4 separate regions of the Homo sapiens genome follow, and regions 1, 2 and 3 are each reported to be linked to region 4. Evidence: microRNA targets listed by miRTarBase, many of them from high-throughput screens and not tested one by one. Region 4 holds a microRNA gene; each other region holds the end of a gene's coding sequence.

Region 1 (4,000 bases), not on the chromosome of region 4:
CAAATCTAAGCTAACCTTAATGGTGCTGTGTCCGCTGTCCACAGAAAACGCCCTTAAGTAGCCCTACCTTACTCCTTAGAGCTTATTTTGCTTTTGTATTTAATAAAAGCTGTCTTAAATGTTTCCTTGTGTAGTTTATGCATAATGGTTGAGTCTGTGTGTTAATTCAATTTCAAATGCCACTAGTTTGTGAATGACCAGGACTCTGATTCTCTCTCCGCCCTCTTTCCTCATTGTTTTGGGGAATATCACACAGGTTAGGTAGAGAAAATACTTTTCCCTGGAATGCTGGAATCTTTAACTGGACAATTATATTTTAGTAACTGACATCTCATGTTTCTTTGTTATAGAATAGTTGATGTTTTCCCGTATACTTAATATTAAAGTGGTTTAGTCGAGCATTTTAAAAAATTTTTAAATTTTTTTTTGAGACAGGGTCTCACTGTCTTCCAGGCTGGAGTGCATTGGTGTTATCATGGCTCACTGTAGCCTCTACCTCCCTGGGCTCAAGTGATCCTCCAACCTTAGCCTCCCAAGTAGCTGGGACCACAGATGCATACCACCACACCTGGTTAATTTTTGTATTTTTAGTAGAGACAGGGTTTCATCATGTTGCCTAGGCTGGTCTCGAACTCCTGAGATCAAGCGATTTGCCTGCCTTAGCCTCCCATAAGTGCTGGGATTACAGGCATGAGCCACTGCGCCTGGCCTACTGAAGCTTTTTAAATGTAGAGGCTTAAATAGCACTTGCCGTGGGAATTGAGAGATGCAAGTACTTTCAAAATTCAGTTGATTATTAAAGTATTTGATTAATCCATGCCAATATTTTCTCTCAATTTTCTAAGTATTCATGAATAAGTTATGTATTTATGTTGAGAGAATGATAATATATATGCTTCTCAACTTGCAATGGAATTATCTCCGGACATCATAAGTTGAAAATGTAAGTTGCAAATGCATTTAATGCACCTAACCTACCAAGCATCATAGCTTAGCCAACCTTAAACGTACTCATAACATTTACATCAGCCTACAGTTGGGCAAAATAATCTAACACAAAGCCTATTTTATAATAAGGTGTTGAATATCTCAAACATTGTACTGTACTGAAAGTGAAAACAGAATGGTTGTGTGAATACTTGAACTATAGTTTCTACTGAATACATATTTCTTTCATAGCATTGTAAAGTTGAGAAATCCCAAGTTGAACCATTGTAGATTGGGGACTGTAAAAGATTGGCTAATGTAAATATCAATGACTGTCTAAAGTTTAATAGAAATTGTGATTTTTAAATTGTGTATGGTTATAATACAAAAATCATGAAGAAGGCCAATCTGTTATTACAGTGTGTACTTAAAAAACATGCCTTCCTTGGGCCGGGCACGGGTGCCCACGCCTGTAATCCCAGCACTTTGGGAGGCCTAGGCGGGCAGATCACGACGTCAGGAGATTGAGACCATTCTGACTAACACGGTGAAACCCTGCCTCTACTAAAAATACAAAAAATTAGCCAGGCATGGTGGTACGCGCCTGTAGTCCCAGTACTCAGGAGACAGAGGAAGGAGAATCGCTTGAACCCAGGAGGCGGAGGTTACAGTGAGCCGAGATCATGCCACTGCACTCCAGCCTGGGCGACAGAGCGAGACTCCATCTCAAAAAAAAAACAACAAAAAAAAACTTTTCTTGCTATAACTTTTGGTATTAATTATATGAGAAAATGAAATCCCTAGGTTAACCATTTAGATACTGCTGGGATATGTGATCCTCCTACCTTCCTTAGTATCCTCATAAAATGTTAAGTTCTAGAAGCAGCGTTATGTATAAAAGTACAGTCAGCCGTCTGTATCTATGGGTTCTAAATCCGCTGACTCAACCTCAGATTAAAACTATTTGAAAAATAAATACTACAAATAAAACCAATACAGTATAATAACTACACATCATTTACATTGTATTCGGTATTATAAGTAACTAGAGATGATTTAAAGTATACAAATACTATGCCATTTTATATCAGAGACTTGAGCATCCATTTATTTTGCTGTTGGGGGTGGGGTGGGGGGTCCTGTAACCAATCCTCTGAGGATAACAAGGGATGACTCTATTAATATATTGATTTTATATTACAATACATACTAGTGCTCTGAAATTCCCAAACAGGCTGGTCATTGTTTTGCATTATTTTGTAATGAAATTCAAGCAGTTAATCAGCAGCAAGAAGAGTAGTGTGAGACAAAATAAGATGTTTAGTCATTGTATGATTTTTTTTTTTTTTGAGACAGAGTCTCTCTGTCGTCCAGGCTGGAGTGCAGTGGTGTGATCTCGGCTCACTGCAACCTCTGTCCCCTGGGTTCGGCTGACTGCAACCTCTGCCCCGCCGGGTTCAAGTGATTCTCCTACTTCAGCCTCCCAAGTAGCTGGGATTACAGGCGTGCACCACCACGCCTGGCTAATTTTTGTATTTTTAGTAGAGATGGGGTTTCGTCATGTTGGCCAGGCTGGTCTCAAACCCCTGACCTAAAGTGATTTGCTCACCTTGGTCTCCCAATGTGCTGGGATTACAGGCGTGAGCCATGACGCCCAGCCAGTCATTGAATAATTATTTAAAAATGAAATTTTGATGTAGTGAAACTTTGTCTTTTGTGGAAGTGCCTATGAGTCTGCAACCTGGTGGTCATTGCCAAATTGCCATTGGTTCACACTTGTAATTACCAGTAGCCAAGAGAGCCATGTGACTACTGTAAGCCCTACTGAAACCACTGACTGTTAAAACAAGTGTGTTTGTTTGACACATTGTGTGTGATCCTTGTCTACAGCCCAAATGACTGTTTTGGGTAACTCAAAGTTGAATTTAAAGATGAAAAAAGATAGGTTTCATAGTATAGGGGGAAGTGAAAGAGTGAGAGAGTTGGAAATTGTTAATCTGTAGCTAAATTCTTTATGAAATAAATGTGAAAGGATTAAGCTCATTCCGTGTAGTTCCTAGGGCGGACAAAAGGTGGAGCAGCTGTCTGAACCAGTGAATTCCTTGTCTCTGAAAATGTTCCAGCCCATAGTGAATAAACACCCTTGGGGCTGATCCAGTACTGGGAGGGGGCGAGTGGAAGACTCACAGGATCCTTTTCAATTCCGGAGGTCTATGAAGTAAAAAGCGGAAGAAGTTTTGGGAGGAATAGAGAGGGAGGGGGACATCATTTAAAAGTAAGTTTGGGCACTCATACCAATTCTCATACTTACTACTTTGTCATATGCTACCCAGTGGTTACAAACAGTAAAATGAAGTAAAAGTGCAGTACTAAGTATTAAAAATAGGCATTCAAATATTTTTCCAAATGCATGTTTTCAGCATTACCTCCAGGTAGAATATACCAGAACAACCAATTCATTTCTAAAAGGAAAATTGCATACCAATTTTCCTATCCCAATTTTCCTATTCCTATAAGAAATGAAAGAGACACAACGAGTTTTGTCAATAAAACTTTAGGAATATCTGCACATGTACATTTACATTCAAGTTGATAACACTGGTGGTTTCATTTCAATACAAATTATGCTAGAGAACTGACATTTCAGACATGGTCATATATATGCTATTTGAATTCCTTTATCTTGATACAGATCTTGATTGTGAATCTCTTGATGATAGATGTGCAGCTAATTTGTCCCGAAACTCATGAAGATAATTGTATTGCTGAAAAAAGTAAAGATACATTGGAATACACTGTAGAAAACTAGTTATCAGTGTGGGCACAATATTAGCAGGTATCAGGAATAAAAAAAAATACTTGCTAAGCACAATTCTACATCTTTTTGGGTAAGGAAGCATTTGCATCATGGGGAAGTTTTATCTTTTAGTAAAGCCATATAGTGTGAAAAACTATTGTTCTACAAGTCTCTAAAAATCAGAAGGTGAAATGAAATGTAGATGGATATGTTTTAAGTCTAAAATTCTTTCTCTCTTTACTTACAGGACCAAATAAGATTAAAACAGTACATAAT
Region 2 (4,000 bases), not on the chromosome of region 4:
AAAGATACTCAAGTATTAGAAAGTAGCTTTTGCAAAAGAGTAAGTAGAAAAAAAAGGCTGATGGGTGTTCTGGTATCTTATAGGTCCTGTTTGGAAATGTACTACCAACTTGGTGATTTGGGCTAAGTTACATTACAAAGGGATGATTTTATTAGTAAAATAAGAAAATTTGAGCTTTGGAAAGGATTAAACAAACTATAATATGTAAAGCATGTAGCACAGCCTTTGACACACAGTGCATGTTCAATAAATAAAATAAATGATAGGTGCTGTTATTTTTTTAAGCACCCATTTTTGTAAGCCAGAGAGCACAACTGAAACCAAAATGTACATTTTCCAATGCCCAGCCAAGTGCCTTTCTCTCCTGATTACACAAATCTATACTTACCAAGACTCCTATATCTACAATATCATTATTTACAGAAAGGCTTTGAAAGAGCTTATTAGGAAGACTCAGACCTGTGTGTGTTTGTTTTGTTTTTGTTTCATCTTTAGGAAAAAAGGGGTGCTGGAAACATTCTCCGGAACAGAAACCAACAAGATTTGGCCCTATGTATATGCTTTCCTACAAACTAAAGTTCCACAAAGAAGCCAGAAAGCTTCAGTTACTCCATGAGGAGAAATGTGTGTAACTATTAATAGTAAGATGGGCAAACCTCCTAGTCCTTGCATTTAGAAGCTGCTTTTCCTAAGACTTCTAGTATGTATGAATTCTTTGAAAATTATATTACTTTTATTTCTACTGATTTTATTTTGGATACTAAGGATGTGCCAAATGATTCGGATACTAAGATGCATCGTTTGAAATCATCTAGTGTGTTGTATGCAGTTATCCTCAAAAACATCAGCGATGTCTGAACCTTTAAAACATCTGTTAGAGCAAAATTAAAAGAGCATTTGGTAGTAATCTAACTTTTTGTTCAGTTAATAAGTGGTTGATAAAGTTTCCATATTTTTCTGGAAAAGTTAAAAAAAGTTACATGTCATTTGGAGAAAATACGTAATCAGAAATTTGTGCATAGATTGATGCCAAAAAAGACATTTCCAGCATTGTGGAACATGGTGAGACACTATATAAAATTCCAGAAAGAAAGCAACTGGATTTACAGATTTATTGTGAGACACAAATTCACTGCTGCCTTTACACTAAGAAATGTATATGTTAACCATATATGCTGTATTTATTTTGTCGTTAAGCATACTTTCAGTTTACTCAGAATTTTCAATTTGCTATAAAGATGTATCAATTAGCATATAGAAAAATATTACTTTAAGATGACTTGTTTCCTTTGAAAATACCTGTGTACTGAGGGTTATGATTTGTGTCAAAAATTGACATAAGTGCTTTTACAAGCACCAAAGTTGAATGAATTTTCAACAAAATGTAATTAAAGTCTATGTTTTCAGTTATGACTCAGGTTAAGAAATGTGTTTTAGGATCTACTTGCTGGTTTTTCTTTTTGATCCAAATGTGTGATCTGCCCTGATAAATAACAAGTTATAGTACCATCTCCCCCGCCAATAAAAAAGAGAAGAAAAAAGAGAAACCCGTGGCACTATGTAAATAAAGTAAGCATACTTTGTTGTTAGTAAATAGATGAGGCATGCCTGGGAAATGCTCCCTTGGCATAAATAGCAATCAATCATAATTAGTAAACAGGTGTACCAATAAAAAGAATTTACATGATAGGTTAACAAGGACCAGGAAAGTGAGTTTCCTGAAGGAGTTCTTTGTTCCTGATCAAAGAAATTGATACCTGTTAGCATTCACTGCCACCATATTTTAAGGAGAAAGAACTCTATTGGTGTCGTCTGAGCAGCCATTTAAAAATTGGAATCTAAAGGATGGTTGCTGATGTACTGTGTGGTCTGGTAGAAGTGGGGAAATATGAGAGATGGAGGAAAAACTTGATTATGTCTTCCATGGCATATTTACTCTTACTTTACTTCGTGCCAAATCAAATGAAACAAGCCGTCTTACAAGTCGTTATTGCCTTTAAAAATCTGTTCCGTTTTTTTCCCAGGTACTTAAAATACAAGTGCCAGTAAGTGGTTCTTATGTGTTTTGGGGGGAAAATTTTATTTCCCTTTTCTTCTGATATTTAAAAAATTCATCGATCTTTCAAGATGAACCAAGGTTTTTTAAAAGAAATATAGGAAACACTTCATTCTTTATAAAACTTTCTATAATGCCTTATTTGAATGTTAATCTTATGTGCTTTCTAAAAAATGTTGTGAAATACCAAACTTATGGATTATCACTAGGTTATCAAGCATATATTAGTCTTTATCAGAATAAAATGAAATTTCATAACTGTGGCTATTACTTTGTTCTTGGTCCTTCACAGGGCCTGCTCCATCCCACCTTCCTTTCTGCTGCCTGATGTCTCAATGGCTTCTGAATGACTGTTCTAATAAATGATCTTAAAACAGTCCATAGGCTGGTTTCAGTTTATGCAATACTTCATCTCCTGCTATGGTAGCCATACCGGCCTTCATAATACCCTTAGGGGATTTGGAAATCAAAGTGAGCAGTGGAAGAACATGGCTATGAGAATTAAGACTCTTATTTCCTGTGACCATTCCCTCCCCACCCGCAAACACTTAGCCCAAAGTTTTGCACATACATTCATTACTTTAGGAATGAATATGACTGTAATACAACTTTTTTCTTTATTTTTTTTTAGACAGGGCCTCACTCTGTTGCCCAGACTAGAGTGCAGTGGCATAATTGGGTCACTGTAACGTTGAACTCCTGGGCTCACGCAATTCTTCTACCTCAGCCTCCCAAGTAGCTGAAACTACAGGTATGTACCACCATGCCTGGCTAATTTTATTTTTTTGTAGAGACGGCGTCTCGATATGTTGCCCAGGCTAGTCTCCTGGCCTCAAACAGTCTTCCTGATTCAGCTTCCCAAGTGCTGAGATTACAGGTGTAAGCCACTGCCCCCACCCAAAAAAATAATTCTGTAATGACCATCATTAAGATTTATGTACCACATGGAAATACATGTATGGAGCTGAATGCCATGGCTAGGAGAAACTACTATACTTTTGTTAAAAGCCAATGAGAGGCCGGGCGCGGTGGCTCACGCCTGTAATCCCAGCACTTTGGGAGGCCGAGGCGGGCGGATCACGAGGTCAGGAGATCGAGACCATCCTGGCTAACACGGTGAAACCCCGTCTCTACTAAAAATACAAAAAAAAAAAAAAAAAATTAGCCGGGCATGGTGGCGGGCGCCTGTAGTCCCAGCTACTCGGGAGGTTGAGGCAGGAGAATGGTGTGAATCCGGGAGGCGGAGGTTGCAGTGAGCTGAGATCGTGCCACTGCACTCCAGCCTGGGCGACAGAGGGAGACTCCGTCTCAAAAAAAAAAGCCAGGGAGAACAGCACCTCAACTGATTTATTTTATAGAGTAAAAGTTATTTTGCTATACCTTTTGTAAGCAGCGTGTACTGTGGGAAATGCAAACTAGCAGTTGTTAGCACCATCCAGAAATTTCTGTCAGTTCCATTTCAAATAGTTTAAATACTGGCTCAAATCTCTAAACCCCACCCTATGGCTACTTTTCCCCCAGCTATATATAATGGCATTCTAGCAAGATATTTTGGATCCTCATAACTTGTGACAAAACTGCCCTATACTAACAACAAATCATTGTAATTATAGATCTCAAATTATGTTAAATTGCTATAGTTGCAACCAACAGCAAGAATTTGTATTTTAGAATATGTTGTGTCTTCTCATTGACCAAAAAATAAAAATAAAAATAAAAATAAATCCTCAGGCCCTGATAAACTGTAGAAATAGCTTTTCTATCTTTGCAGTTAAAGATTTTCATCTTGGAAGTTATGGTTAAAAAATTTTTAAACAGTTAAAATAGTGTAGCTGTGCTTAAAGCTTCTGGTAAAAGCCAGTATGCTTTGTAGAGCCCTTATCCCCCTCCTGCTTTTTATTTGTTTTTAGCTCACTAAATAATATAAACACTGATTTTTCCATA
Region 3 (4,000 bases), not on the chromosome of region 4:
CTGCGTCCCGCGGAGACGGCACGCCTGCGGGCTCTGGACCAGGCTGACTCGGGCTGCCGATCTCTGTGCCTCAAGATCCTCAAGGCCATATGCAAGTCCACCCCGGCTCTGGGCCACCTCACTGCCAGCCAGCTAACCAATGTCATCCTCCACTTGGCCCAGGAGGAGGCTGACTGGTCTCCGGATATGCTGGCCGACCGTTTCCTGCAGGCCTTGAGGGGACTTATCAGCTACTTAGAGGCTGGAGTCCTGCCCAGTGCCCTAAACCCCAAGGTGAACTTATTTGCAGAGCTCACCCCTGAAGAAATAGACGAATTAGGATACACTCTGTATTGCTCATTGTCTGAGCCAGAGGTGCTGCTGCAGACGTAGGGCAGGTGAAGGCCAAAGCGGGTGTTGGTGGTCAGGCCCTGGATTCTCCGTTAGATACACTTGGCTACCTAGTTGGTGCCTCACAGGGTTCCTGCTGCCTGGTGTCTTGCTGATCATCACCCTGGTCACTTCATGCTGATTAGAATGACATCTCTTTCGTCTCCTATTTTGTTACCCAACTCTTCCTATTTTTGTTACCAATCACTGTGCTCTCTGCCGCCCCCTGGCTCCAGGCTAATTTTTCTGGAATGAATTGAGAAGGTGGCGTGCTGGCCTGAGCTGATGGACCACTTGGTGTTTTGCGTTTTGGCCCATGTTTGCTGCCTCTATCTGGTCTGCCTTGCCCGTTTGCCTGTTCCTATTCAGTGTCTTTTCTATTTTTTCCTCTCTCGTTCATGCCTTCTGTTTTGCTCTTGTCCCTGGAGCATATCTGCCTAATTAAGATGTTGCCTTTTAGTTGAATGCCACTGAAGAGCTGTGATAGCATGTTTCAAAGCTGAACTCTACAGAGCGAGTGCTGAGACAGTATTTAGGGTTTCTGGGAGTGAGGCTGGTAGAAGAGTTGGCCTTTGACCACGGTTCCTGGAGTAGAAGTCCATCCTCCCCCCAACCTCCTGACCCATTCATAAATGCTGAGAATGTCTCTCATGGGAACACTGTTAATGACCCACACAGGATAAGCTGAATGCAAAGTTATTTGCAGGTTGAATTTCTTGGTGGCTATTAGCAGAAGTGCAGAGTAGGGAACCAGAGCTGGTTAAGGGCCTAGTGAAGGGTTTGTGTGCCCAGTGTCTGCTCGTCATCTGTGGCTGCAGGGGTCAGACAGACAAGGATGGGGACTGCCAGGGCACCACTTCATCATGAATGCTGGTTTTCACACCTTTTCCTTATTTTATTGCCAATCAGGACAAGGCCTTGAAGGAACGCAGCCTTAGACATCAGGTGAGGATGATGGAGGTAGACAGTCGACTGAATGTCAGCTGGAAAATCCAGTCACTAGTTGGGGTTTGGTGGCCATGTTTTCTACCCAGACAGGCCCTGCTTTTCTAGGATGTGGCCTTAGAGCAAGAACAGACCCAACAGCCAGCCCTTCATCCTCCAGCGTCTGCCATAGGAATGTGAGAGGGGTGTTTGCTGAGCGCTCCGGGCACGGCCAGAGGGCAAGTGAGCATGCACGGACCTCTTCCCCCTGTCCTGTTTCTCACCCAGCACCTGGGGAGATCGGTGCTACCAAGGAAGAGAGCACACAGATAAGACAGAGGGGAGGAGGTGGGCATTTCCTACATTCCTCCTTGTTTGCCGCTGCTGAGATTGCAGTATTTATTGCAATGTAAATGTATCCTGAAGGTGGGGAGGAATGTTTAATCTACCATGTCCGTGTGTCATCTTGGTTTGTGTTTTTCCCTGTTTGTAGCAAGACTCTGATGATAATTCTGTTTCTCATCTGCCCATTCAGTATTTTGTTTTCCTTCCGTCAAGTTGTCTTATTTTTTCAATGACTACCTCTCCATCATTGAGGTTCTGGTGAAGCTCTCTGCAGCTGTCTCATTCCTTCCCAACGATAGTAACAGGAAATGACTCTTTAGCATCGATACCTCAACATCAATTTAGGGTAGAGATTCCTGCCCCTCTTTTGTCACAGATTAGGAAATTGAGAACTAGGGTTAACCTTGACTATATTTAGAGGTCTTTTTGCCTCTTTTCCCCTTAACAAGGATTTCTTATGGTGGTTTCAGTTTCATTTGCATAAAGGTATTGAGAGGGAACAAAAAACATAAAGCTGAGAATCTTGAGAGAGCTCATCTACCCTGTCTGTTGGTCAGACTCAAATGAGAGTTAAAAAAAAAAAAAAAAATCTGTATGCCTGAGTACCATCCTGGATGAATCTAGAAGGTATGGGGTAGAGCTTGACAGGGTTCCTGTGTACCCACTGGGTATCCGTTAGAGGTAAGGGAGAGGAGAGGATTGATAGAGTGTTGCAAAAGTATAGATTATTCATTGAGATAAAGGATTTGGTTTCCCTGCCATGAGTATTAAAAAAATTTAAGTTTTCCCAAGCTTGCATCTCTGACCAAATTTCACATAAAACATTGGAAGGAGGCTGGGTGCGGTGGCTCATGCTTGTAATCCCAGCACTGGGAAGCTAAGGCGGGTGGATCACTTGAGGTCAGGAGTTCGAGACCAGCCTGGCCAACATGGTGAAACCCCGTCTCCACGAAAAAGATAAAAATAAGCTGGGCGTGGTGGCAGGCGCCTATAATCCCAGCTACTCGGGAGGCTGAGGCAGGAGAATAACTTAAACCCGGGAGGCGGAGGTTACAGTGAGCTGAGATCGTGCCACTGCACTCCAGCCTGGGTGACAGAGTGAGACCCTATTTCAAAAAAATAAAAATTGGAAGAAGAGCTTAAAAAAGATAAGATTTTAAAGAGTCCCAAGTTATTTAAGTTGAGTGTAATTGTCATTTAAGGAAGGCAAATGAGTTTATCATCCTTCTTAAAGAGCATCTCTTTTAACTGTTGGACAAAACCATAACTTTGTCATTTTACAAGGAAGAACCTCTTAAGAAGTCCTCAGAACCAGAAGCAATGTGAACTCTCAGCGCTGGTCCTGGTGGGTTTGCTGACCATGACTGGGCAAGCCGTTCTTTTTGCTGCCATCTTCCTCATCATAAAGTGTGGAACATAGGCAATTGCTTTGAGATTCTTGGATAGAAGAGGACAACATTCTGCACCTGCCCCCTTTTTTAAATCTTTGGGGAAAGATGAGTAACTTTCCCCACTACTCTGCCTTCCTGTTCAGTAACTCTTACTTTTGCCTGAAGTAACAGCATCTTCTACTTCTCCATCTAGAGATTTTTGTGTGTGTGCCATCAAGGTTAGCAAACTTTATACGTAGCCTAACACTTAAAAAATGCACTCATTATCTTAAACCTAATAAATTCCAGAGTTTATTTTGGTTCTCCTCTGTTGCCCTTCCTAAAAAATGAGCTGAAGATGACAGTATTTTTCTTTACATGCTTGGTTATGACTTTTAAAGTTTTATTTAAATAAATGTTGAAGCTCAAGTTTAAAGAAGCGTTGCAGAGGCCCACGGTCTCCTGGGTCCCGGCCACCTGTCCATATTCCACATTTGCTGACTGTGCTCCCTGCACTCCACTCAAGTTGAGAGTTCAAATAGTCTTGAAGGGGAATCAGCTTCAGGATGGAAGGACCCAGGAGAGGCCCCGAGGTGGGAGGGTTCTGTAAATACAGACTACTGCGAGTGTCCAGAGCTCTCTGCCATGATACTTCCTTGGGACTGACTTGGCTGAGAACGTGTTCTGTCAGAGGATTTGTTAGAACTCTGCCCTTTTGTCTGAAACTCAAGGCCAAGGAGAATGATAGGAGACTTAGGACAGAGCTGACCCTTGCACCAGGCTGGGAGGCTGCAGCCCTTTTAGATGCCACTTACTGTAAGTGGCCAGAATACCAGAGAGGTGGGTTCCATGGTCAAATGCACAGTAGGTGTTTACCTTTACATTTGGATCACCTTGTAGTCTTTAAATTCTTGGTCCCTGAGGCCAAGTCCACAACTTGCCTTCTAGTCACTTGCCTGCCCGCAGTGGTGGTGGATGTGTTAGCTGGTAGA
Region 4 (4,152 bases):
TCGGAAATGTCCCCTCTCCTCCATCCCTCTGTCCTCGCTCCTAGGCCTTTGTCATGCTTTGCCTGGACTGGTGGTGGCCTGCACTGTCTCCCTGCCTCCTAGCTTGGTCAGCCCCTCGCCGCCCTCAGAGTGGTCTTTCCAACACCTCCAGGATGTTACTCCTGGCTTATGACCCACCCAGACCTCTCCACCACTGAGAGGCAAGTCCCAAGACCTGAGCCCCATACCCAGGGCCCTTCTGCCCACCTCTGTCCAGCTCGCCCACTGCTCTGCATTTCCCTGCCAAGCTGTCCTGCCCATAGTGTAGCCATTTGGCACTTAGCAGGACTCCCCGGCCATGGCAGGCATCCTCTCTGCCTCTGCCCACGTGTCCTCCTGCCTGGAATGCCTGCTGTCTCTTCCGTGCTCAGTGAACTCTTACCTCCTGGTCCAGCCCAGATGTCACCCCCTCCGTGAGACTTCCTGAGCCTTCTCCAGCCGAAAGGACTATTCCTGCCTCTGTTTCCCCAGAGCATGTTGTTCCTGCATCAGTTACAGCTCAGATTGCACTGGAGTGTATTGAGTTCCTAGGTACTGCCCCTTTACAAGCTTTTTGGACATAGTAAACATGTCTTGACATTCTCGGTCTTTTTCTGGGCTTTGCATGATACCTTTCAGGAGGCATAGCAAGCCCCTGATCAATGGTTTTCTCTGCACAGAGCTGGCATGACAGCTCCTCACCCTGCTAAATGCAAGTTGAGTGAGGAGTGGCTCTAGCAGGCAGAGTGTGCGGGGGACAGGAGTCGAGGGAGAAAGGGTTATTTCACCACCTCCAGGACCTGAGCCCTACGCTGCCAACTAACCTGGGTTCCTGAAGGGTAAATTGCAGGAGCCAGAACCCAGGCTGCTTTCTGGATCAGGCATTTGCCACTGCCTGCTCCTCGGTCCCCATGGTGAGCGCCCCCTCTGCTGCACAGAGCTGGTATGACAGCCCCTCAGCCTGCTAAATGCCTTCTTAGATTGGCTCAGCAGCCCTCTGGGGTGGGCGTCAGCTCTGCGTGTTCCTGGTGAGCCGCACGTTGCTGGGAAGACAGTCTAGGATCAGTTTAGGCTTTCTCTGTATTTGGCCTAAGACTCAGGAACTTCTAGGAAGCAAGGTACACATCTTAGCTCAGCTTCATGGGCTGTGTGTCTCTAATAGGTCGTGCACCTGCCAGTGACCTTGGGTGCCAAGAGGAGGCCACGTCAATCTGGAAAAGCCCCGTTCTTGGCTGTCCACAGTTCTTTTCCCTGCAGCTCACATTTGCTGTTATTAAGAATTGACGGTTTAAGGGAATCACAGTCACTCGCCTCTTGGTTTTTGGCCCAAACTAACCAGCAAGGCCGAACATCATTCCTGGGGAAGGAGCCATCCACCTCCCACACACCGAGTCTCTCTCCTGGTTTTCCAGTGACCAATCTCCAGCTCATGCTAATCTGCCCTTCTGTCTGGAAGGCTCTGATCCTGAATTTAGTCTGAGGCTTGACCATAGATCCTTTGCCATGCACCACCATTCAGAGTTGCTATGAAATGAAGACAGTGCATGGCAAGTACCTGGCCTGCTACAGAGGATCACTAAAATTCTTCTGATCCCCGTCCAGCCCAGAGGGCCGGCTACAGGAGGTGCTAGCTCAGGGGCTTGAGAATCCTTTCCCCCTCAGCCCCTGGGATGGGACCTGGTGAGCCCTCCAAATGTTTCCTGGTCCCTCCTGGGGCCCGGCTCAGTGCTCGCTTTGGGCACAGCGTCAGATGTGAGAAGAGGATGGACAGGAGGCTGTTGGCTGCTCCTGACCCCCGGCCCTCTGCCTTGCAGGGTAAGACCGTGATCCAAGCGGAGATTGACGCTGCAGCGGAACTCATCGACTTCTTCCGGTTCAATGCCAAGTATGCGGTGGAGCTGGAGGGGCAGCAGCCCATCAGCGTGCCCCCGAGCACCAACAGCACGGTGTACCGGGGTCTGGAGGTACCTGCAGGAGGCAGTGGGCGAGCAGGCGGGGCAGCCCAATGCCATGGGCCTGATCTCACCGCTGCCTCCTTCCCCAGGGCTTCGTGGCGGCCATCTCGCCCTTTAACTTCACTGCAATCGGCGGCAACCTGGCGGGGGCACCGGCCCTGATGGTGAGATGTGGGCACAGGTGGGACAGCGGCAGCTGGTTGTCCTCCTGGTCCCAACAGACAGACAGAGGCCACCCTGAGCCCCTTGGGTCTCAGCCTAGTCATGGGGAGAGGCACAGAAGGTGGAGGCAGCTTGGGGCTGTGGGTAGGCTTTGGGACCAGAGACCCAGTTTGAATCCCAGCGTCGTGCCTCTCTGCCTGGGAGACCCTGGCAATCCCTGAACTTCTCTGAGGCACAGTTTCCTCATCTGCAAAGTGGAAATAATAGGAAAGCCTCCATGACTGGGTTGTGAGGCTCAAATGAGACACATCCAGCAGCAGGCAGGGCTGGCCCGGAGCTGGCTGAGTGTTGGTGGCTCTGTTGATGATCATTACCGCTGACCTTCAGTGCTCACCACGTGCCTGCTGCTGTCAAGCACGGCATGGAGATGATCTCATTTCATCCTCTCAGCAGCTTCGAGAGGGAGTTGTGACTCTGCCTCTTTGCCAGATGACAAAACTGAGACACACAGCCGTGACTTACTTGGCAAGACTGAGTGACTAGTAAATAAATGATGGAGCAGAGAAAGATTTGGATGTAGTCTCTCTCGGGGTTGATGGTATTCAAGTCACTCCTCTGCCATTATCGGAGTGAGGTTGGCTATTACTGGATGAAGTCCCAGGCCTGTGGGGGAGGTGCAGCCCAGCTCCCAGACAGCCTGGGTGGGAGAGGTCCACATAGTTGTCGGGAACCCCGAGCCCCAGACAGGGGCACTGGATGCTGATGCCGGAGTGTGTACTAGGGACATGGATGGGGACGTCCTCATGCATCTGTGCACAGACAAACACGGTGCATGGCCAGGCGCCCACGTGCCTGGCTGCTGCACATGCCTGACCCAGGACATGTGCTGAGAGAGCCCGTGTGTACTTGCCCCGCCGCGCCCGGTGAGCACTCAGTGACTCTAGCAGTAAGAACAGACCTGCCTAGGTGATGGCAGGACCGGTTGGTGCAGGCTTCTGGGGAAAGGGAGCCTTGGCCAGAGCGTGGGGCAGATTGGGCTGTGCCGTGGCCTCCTTGGCAGGGACTTTTGGAGATAGGGCCAGACGCCTTGGAGGAGTGGGGTCGGGTAGGGGATGTCCTGGTTGGCACAGAGTCTGGTGGTTCCAGGTGAGGGACAACCATGCTGTAGGGTAGGGTGGGGTGGGGGTTGGGGGCTGGTGGCGCCATCCTCATGCATCACTGAAACACCTCCCGGGCAGGGCAACGTGGTCCTATGGAAGCCCAGTGACACTGCCATGCTGGCCAGCTATGCTGTCTACCGCATCCTTCGGGAGGCTGGCCTGCCCCCCAACATCATCCAGTTTGTGCCAGCTGATGGGCCCCTATTTGGGGACACTGTCACCAGCTCAGAGCACCTCTGTGGCATCAACTTCACAGGCAGTGTGCCGTAAGTCCCTGGGGATGGTGTAGGCTGTGGTGGCTAGGGGACGTTCACCTGCTCACCTGCTGTCTGCCTGGGGATGGGGCTGTGAACCCAGGGGTCATGCACGGACTCTACTCCCTTACTTGCTGTGTGGCTATGAGTGAGCCACTTCACCTCTCTGAGCTTCCATTTCTTCACCTGTACAGGGAGTGATTATCCTTAATTTGCAGAGTCATTGCAAGGATTAAACATGTTAATGAACAGGAAAGAGCTTCGCAGACTGGAAGTGCACCCTACAGCTGTGGGTAATATTGATTTCAGTGCTACCTCTGCTACTGGAAAGGGCACAGGGGAGCACAGAATGAACTGGAGGAGTCAGGAAGCCTTCCTGGAGGAGGTGACATCTAAGCAGAGGAGTTGGCCAGGCAGAGGGGAAGAGGCAGGAGAAGAATATATATGTTGGGAGAGGGAATAGCACATACAATGTTGCCAAGCCAAAAACTTGTGCTCTGGGGCATGGCAGGATCCTGTGTGGCTGGAGTGTGGAGTTTGGGGGCGACAGGGCAAGAGAGTGAGGGCAGGGCATGGTTTGAGTTGAGGTAGGGGAGGCAGGCC

What was found. The annotated mature microRNA hsa-miR-4695-3p reads UGAUCUCACCGCUGCCUCCUUC and lies in region 4 at 2,036-2,057, shown strand. An mRNA with a match to its seed (bases 2 to 7 or 8) in the 3' UTR can be bound and repressed. Matches are read on the target gene's strand: a 7mer-m8 pairs with bases 2 to 8, a 7mer-A1 pairs with bases 2 to 7 and ends in A, and an 8mer does both.
Region 1: the mRNA of CDKN3 is a reported target of hsa-miR-4695-3p. The part of its 3' UTR that is shown has no 7-base or 8-base seed match.
Region 2: miRTarBase lists AK3 as a target of hsa-miR-4695-3p. Seed matches in the 3' UTR shown: 7mer-m8 at 3,315-3,321.
Region 3: miRTarBase lists MIEF1 as a target of hsa-miR-4695-3p. Seed matches in the 3' UTR shown: 7mer-m8 at 2,700-2,706.

The regions. Positions count from the first base shown.
Region 1 is chr14:54,419,684-54,423,683 of GRCh38, reverse strand. CDKN3 (cyclin dependent kinase inhibitor 3) reads right to left here. Exons shown (of 8, transcript NM_005192.4): 8 at 3,466-3,692. The coding sequence ends at 3,606. CNIH1 (cornichon family member 1) reads left to right here. Exons shown (of 5, transcript NM_005776.3): 5 at 1-123. Among named protein-coding and RNA genes, the nearest start is that of CNIH1, 20 kb to the left of the region's middle.
Region 2 is chr9:4,709,592-4,713,591 of GRCh38, reverse strand. It overlaps AK3 (adenylate kinase 3), which reads left to right. Exons shown (of 5, transcript NM_016282.4): 5 at 496-4,000. The coding sequence ends at 616. Among named protein-coding and RNA genes, the nearest start is that of AK3, 30 kb to the left of the region's middle.
Region 3 is chr22:39,513,952-39,517,951 of GRCh38, forward strand. It overlaps MIEF1 (mitochondrial elongation factor 1), which reads left to right. Exons shown (of 6, transcript NM_019008.6): 6 at 1-4,000. The coding sequence ends at 372. Among named protein-coding and RNA genes, the nearest start is that of ATF4, 4.6 kb to the right of the region's middle.
Region 4 is chr1:18,881,109-18,885,260 of GRCh38, reverse strand. MIR4695 (microRNA 4695) reads left to right here and starts at 1,986; the gene lies at 1,986-2,059. ALDH4A1 (aldehyde dehydrogenase 4 family member A1) reads left to right here. Exons shown (of 15, transcript NM_003748.4): 6 at 1,833-1,982; 7 at 2,063-2,137; 8 at 3,374-3,561. RefSeq lists a silencer at 901-1,132.